2 linked regions of the Homo sapiens genome follow. The protein of the gene in region 1 purifies or fractionates together with the protein of each later gene. This does not show direct contact. Each region holds a gene or a part of one and is shown on either strand. Other genes may lie near its edges.

Region 1 (2,957 bases):
CACCGCTGCACTCCAGCCTGGGTGACAGAGCGAGACTCCGTCTAAAAAAAAAAAAAAAAAAAAATTCCGAGGGCACAAAAGGGGAAGGGAAGGAAGGAGAACCTAGGAAGAAAGAAAGGAAAGCATGATGTCTCTGAAGTTGTTAGAAAGACTTCCCCTTGTGGGTGTGTCTGGGCTGCTGGGAAGCTTGTTAATAGAAAGTCTAGTTAGGGGATGGTTGCATTAGCCTTAAGGTTTAAAAAGGAATTGGATTTAAGCTGTATGAGGAAGAAAGGGAAGAATTTGTCTGATTCCTCTAGCACCCCCATCCTTTGTCCCCTGGAGGCTGGTGCACTGTGACAGAGGGAAGAGAGGCCAGGCTAGAGACCAACTGTAGCCAGACAACTCATGTCTGTGCTAGTGACAACTATGTCGATCATAGCATGAAGGCCTGATTGGAGATGGGAAGAGGCTAGAGACTATATAGTTGGAGGAGCTGGCCCTGGTTATTTACTGTAATATCATCACTGATTTATGGATGTTGTATATGGCACTGCAGGACCAAACTAAAACTTGGCATCATAGAAAAATCTTTTATAGATCACAAGGGAGTACAAGAATGGGTTTGGCAAAGTTAAGAGAATGAGGAGCATGTCAGTCCCTCTCCAATCAATAAGAGAAGGCTAAGGAAAGAGTCCTTCCCTATGTAGACTGTGGTTTACCCCATTCTTTCCATTCCCAGTCTACCATTTCTTGGGACTCAGGTTCCAGGGTTTACATTTGACCCTAAACTTTGGGCTTCTAAATCTGTCTGGGTGCTTTGGTGTCACCCTGAGGGATAATCTAATGTGATGAGATGAACCCAGCTCCATTCCATAGGCAGGCAGGTCACTGCAGGACACAGGGATCTCTGAACTCCTGGGCTGAGGATGATTTGCTCCCTGCTGTAGAATCTGCCATTCCTTCCCTTAGCTGGTTCAGAAGGTCTCTGCTCTCACTGGGAGGCAAGTTACTCAGGAAGTATGGAGGGGCCAATTCCACCAGCCTAATAGAGAGAGTCATAATTAGATGATCTGCATCTTCTCTCTCTCTGTCTCTCTCTTTTTAGAGACAGGGTCTCGCTCTGTTACCTGGGCTGGAGTTCAGTGGCATGATCATAACTCACTGTAGCCTTAGACTCCCGTAATCCTTAGCCTTAGACTCAAGTAATCCTCCCACCTCAATCTCCCAAGTAGCTGGGACTACAGGGTGGTTTCAAACTCCTAGCCTCAAGGACTCCTCCTGCCTAGGTCTCCAAAAGTGCATCTTCTCTTATAATGCAGACTTTTAAACTTCTCACCAGCCCTTCCACAAATCCTGTCTCCTCAGATCATGTTTTTACTAACCACTAAGATCCCTTCCTCTGTCTCTCTAACTCCCCAGCCATAATTTTGGCCCCAGGGAGAGGAATAGGCAGTATAGGAGGGATGTCAGGGAACTCACATCTGTGGTTGAATCTCAGAAACAATGGAAAGGCAGTTGTCTTTGGATATGGTGAAATTGTGGTAGAGCACCCATGGTGGGGGTCTGGCAGGAGCTCTGCGGCTTCGGTAGCAGCAGTATGAGGAGAGCTGGGCCACATGCTTATGGGTTAGGAGAAGGTAATTTCCAGTCCCGTCTGTGTCTCTGGCCACCTTATTGAAAGGCAGAAATATTGACGGAATAAATAAAAGGGAAGAGGCAGGCAGTAGAAAAAAATAAAAGGGGATTGAGAAAGAGTAAGGGTGATGAGAGCATGAAAAGTAAAGCATTACCTCTAGGTGTTGTCTGGTCTCTACTATACCTCATGGCATTTACCATAGCCCCTTGTACCTCAAATCCTCAAGGGAAAAGTCCTTTCTGGTTCTAAAGAATCTTTTGAATGGCCACCTGGACCCTGATTTCAAAGTGGCTTACCAATATTTGTTCTCTTTGCCTTTTGCTCCTTTGATCACCCTCACCCCCACCCTTTCCTCTAACCTTGAGAAAGTATCCTGACACCAGTGCTTTCTGAAGGTCTCTGCGATTCTGCTCAGAGCCAAAGGCTGGTAGGGACAAGGGAAGTTCAATTCGTTGCATGAGTTCTAGGAGTTCTCCCCGAAGTTTATGGGCTTGGCACAATGCTGCCCAATTCAGACCTCGAGCCTGGCACCAAGCCTCATCTGCTCCACCTAGGAGAGGAAAGGGACCAGCTAAACTAAAGTCCTTGAGACCCCTGAAATAACCCAACCCTTAGCCAAAGGGCCTCCTCTTTCTGAGCATAGAGATCTGTCAGCTGGCTGCATAAAATTTCCCCTCTTTGGAAAATCTGGGATTCTATAAAAGGATGCAGAACTCACTTTGTATAAAGGCTTCATACACCTGGATCAGAGAACTGTGGTCACCATCCGTGTGTTCCAGGGCCCGACGCAGGGCAGCTTCTTCTGCACTGAGTGGAGGACGGGTAAACCCAGGGGCAGCTGGAGGCAGAAGAGTGGAAGGTAGAATCTGCCATTTGGGAAATGGGAAGGGATAGTAGTACAGGTAGAATGCTGAAAAGGCAGAAGTGTCCCTTTGGGAACTTTATTCAAAAGACATAGATAACTTCTAGGTGCTATGCACTTTATTAAACATTGAGGATAAGTAAATGAAATACAGTCTCTGCCATCAAGGAGCTTCAAGTCTGGTGGGAGAGACCAACAGGTAAGCAGACTTGATAAGCATGATAGGTGTTTGTATATGGTACTGTGGAAACAAAGAGGAGGATACCTAATCCAGGCTTTAGGTGGTGAGGATGTGAGTGATGTAAGAGAAAACGATGAGGACCCTTGGGCTAGTATTTGAAATTTGAGTAGGAATTAGCCGAGTGGAGACGGGGCAGGGAGTATGTTTTAGACTGTGGCAACAGCATGGCACGTAAGTTAATAATATAGCATATTTGGGGAACTGCAAGCCATCTGGTATGGGTGGAGGGAATGAAA
Region 2 (3,656 bases), on another chromosome or scaffold:
TCCAATAAAACTTTATTAGCACAGGCTGCTGGCCTGAGGGCTGTGGTTTGCCAACCCCTGCTCTAGACCCACCATCAGGTTCATATGTTCTTTGGGCTGCCTAGGCTAGGCTCCCATCCCGCTCTTGATACATATATCTTTTCTTTACACAGGATAAAGGGCAGTTAATTGTTGTTAGTGGGCTTCATACAGTGACTATGATTAGGAATGAATGAAGCATTAAGTAACATTTGAACATGATATTTGAGTTTACACTGTGATGCCTTTTTTTTTTTTTTTTTGAGACAGAGTTTCGCTCTTATTGCCCAGGCTGGAGTGCAATGGTGCGATCTCAGCTCACTGCAACCTCCACCTCCTGGGTTCAAGCAATTCTCCTGCTTCAGCCTCCCGAGTAGCTGGGATTACAGGCATGTGCCTCCACACCCGGCTAATTTTTTTTTTTTTTTTTTGAGATGGAGTCTCGTTCTATTGCCCAGGCTGGAGTGCAGTGGCGCAATCTCAGCTCACTGCAAGCTCCGCCTCCCAGGTTCACGCCATTCTCCTGCCTCAGCCTCCTGAGTAGCTGGGACTACAGGCATGCACCACCACACTTGGCTAATTTTTTTTTTTTTTTTTGAGATGGAGTCTTGCTCTGTTGCCCAGGCTGGAGTGCAGTGGCACAATCTCAGCTCACTGCAAGCTCCGCCTTCCGGGTTCACGCCATTCTCCTGCCTCAGCCTCCTGAGTAGCTGGGACTACAGGTGCCTGCCACCATGCCCGGCTAATTTTTTGGTATTTTTTAAATAGAGACAGGGTTTCACCATGTTGGTCAGGCTGGTCTCGAACTCCCGACCTCAGGTGATCCGCCCACCTCAGCTTCCCAAAGTGCTGGGATTACAGGGTGAGCCACTGCGCCCGGCCAATGCCCTATCTTTTAAAAATACAGTTAAATAGGTAAAAGGCTAAGGATCCCAGAGTTCCTATTGTGTTACTTCTTGATGTGGTGGGCTGAGTCTAACAAGAAAAGTTTCTTTTTTTTTTTTTTTCCAATTTAGGGACCTGCCACTTCAGGAGAGAAAAGTTTTTTAATGTAATGTTTGATATAAAAGCATGCGTAATACACATAAAGTATAATGAACACACACATGTATATATGTGTTTATATATGCATACATATACATACACATGCTTACATAACAATCAACCTAAGAACTAGATTACTATCTCAGTGTTCTTTTTTTTTTTTTTGAGACAGATTCTTGCTCTGTCACCCAGGCTGGAGTGCAATGGCACGATCTCAGTTCACTGCAAGCTCCACCTCCCAGGTTCATGCCATTCTCCTGCCTCAGCCTCCCTAGTAGCTGGGACTACAGGCGCCCGCCATGACGCCTGGCTAAATTTTTGTATTTTTTTAGTAGAGACGGGGTTTCACCGTGTTAGCCAGGATGGTCTCGATCTCCTGACTTCGTGATCCGCCCACCTCGGCCTCCCAAAGTGCTGGGATTACAGGCGCAAGCCACCGCGCCCCGCCACCCTGTTCTTTTTTAAAATCATTCCTTTTCTCCCTCCCAGCTCCACCAGTGTATATTCCATTTTGAATTGTATAAAGCAGAATGAAATTTAATTGATATAAATGTTAACATTTTGTACTCAGTTTCAAAAAGTGATCTCCACAATTGAAAAGAAACAGAAATACTTACGGGGAAAGGGGAAACGGAAGACCTGCAGGTTTTAGCAGGTCAATTAGAATTGACTTTGTTCCAGGAAAAGCCAATTTGCTCTTAATATCATTAAGGGAAATGTGTTATCTGGACTGAGAAGTGGTGGTCATGCTCTGTTGTGTGCTGGTTAGGCCACAGCTAGAGTATTATACTTTCCTGTTGTTGTCATGTGTGTGAGAGGTATAGAAAACCAGGAATGCATTCATGGATAAGTATTCACACTAATGACACAACCTGAAAATATGCATCTGGAGGCCAGGTCATTGGGTGTGTAACTTGTGAAAGAGAACAGTCAAGAGACGTGAGAGAAGCCTTCAGCAATTTAGAGGTCATTCAGCAGAAGTGGTCCTGTGGGGCACAGTTAGGCCAGTGGAAGATGTGGGGCAGCAGCAACAGCTCCTAATCACTCTCAGGTCACAGGACCCTTTGGAAATCTGAACACTGCAGACCTTTCAGAAAAGCAGACATACCACTTGCATACCATTTCAGATTTGCAAACCCCAGGCATCCCCTGATCTCAATTTATAAGAGCTCTTGCTATATTGACAAAATATCCCACAGTCAAAAGACAGCTGACAAATTGAGAGAACATATTTGCAATGTATATCAGAGATAAAGGGTCTATATCTGTAATACATGAAGAACTCTTGAATTGAGGAATGAAGAACCAAACCCAATAGAAAAATGATAAGACTTGGGCTAGGTGTGGTGGCTCACACCTGTAATCTCAGCACTTTGGGAGGCTGAGGCGGGAGGATGATGAGGTCAAGAGATTGAGACCATCCTGGCCAACATGGTGAAACCCCATCTTTACTAAAAATGCAGAAATCAGCTGGGTATGGTGGTGCATGCCTTTAGTCCCAGCTATTCGGGAGGATGAGGCAGGAGAATTGCTTGAAACTGGGAGGCAGAGGTTGTAGTGAGCCGAGATTGTGCCACTGCACTCCAGCCTGGCGACAGAGTGAGACTCCCTTTCAAAAAAAGAAAAAGAAAAAAATGGGAAGACTTGATAATGAACTGTGTGTGTGTGTGTTTGTGTGGTGTATGTGTGTGTGTGTGTGTGGTGGTGGTGGTTAAACATAAGAGATGGTCAGCCTCGTGTAATTAGAGAAATGCAAAGTTAACCAGAGATACCACTTTTTTCCCTTTGATTTAAGGGTGTCGCTTTTTGACTATCAGATGGGTGAAAATGAAAATGTATGACAACGTATCTGGTTCAAGCAAGGCTATGAGGAAACAGACATTCTAATACATTGCTGGTGGGAATGCAAACTGATACAACCTTTCTGAGGAGCAGTTTGGCAACATTTAACAAAACTATTGGTGCCTCGACCTGTTCACCGAACACTTTAAGGAAACCTGCCTTAAAAGATAGACTTCTAGGCCTGTAATCCTAGCGCTTCGGGGGGCCGAGGCGGGTGGATCACCTGAGATCAGGAGTTCGAGACCAGCCTGGGCAACATGGTGAAAGCCTGTCTCTACTAAAAATACAGAAATCAGCTGGGCGCAGTGATGCATGGCCGTAATCCAAACTACTTGGGAGGCTGAGGCGGGAGAATCGCTTGAACCCCAAAGGCGGAGGTTGCAGTGAGCCAAGATGGCACCACTGCACTCCAGCCTGAGTGACAGAGCGAGACTCCGTCTCAAAAAAAAAAAAAAAAAAAAAAAACAGTGGCCAGGCGCGGTGGCTCACACCTGTGATCCCAGCACTTGCGAGTACGAAATGGGTGGATTGCCTGAGGTCTGAGGTCAGGAGTTCGAGACCAGCCTGGCCAACCTGGTGAAACCCCCATCGCTACTAAAAATACAAAAAATTAGCCGGGCGTGTGGCGGTCGCCTGTAATCCCAGCTACTCGGGAGGTTGAGGCAGGAGAATAGTTTGAACCCAGAAGAAAGGGTTGTAGTGAGCCGAGATTGCACCATTGTCACTCCAGCCTGGGTGACAAGAGCAAAACT

Evidence for each region. Proteins that work in one complex are often made in the same cells at the same time.
Region 2: the proteins of DQX1 (region 1) and PRR14L purify together in Homo sapiens (affinity purification with mass spectrometry; one large-scale study listed by BioGRID and IntAct). This does not show direct contact.

Annotation. Positions count from the first base shown.
Region 1 is NC_000002.12:74,517,579-74,520,535, forward strand, and holds the end of DQX1 (ATP-dependent RNA helicase homolog DQX1), read right to left. Parts: intron 2,457-2,957; coding exon 2,337-2,456; intron 2,169-2,336; coding exon 1,978-2,168; intron 1,653-1,977; coding exon 1,462-1,652; intron 1,025-1,461; coding exon 868-1,024; 3' UTR 553-867; downstream 1-552. UniProt on the Homo sapiens protein: Might be involved in RNA metabolism; it is missing helicase motif III and may not have helicase activity.
Region 2 is NC_000022.11:31,733,012-31,736,667, reverse strand, and holds part of PRR14L (protein PRR14L), read left to right. Parts: intron 1-3,656.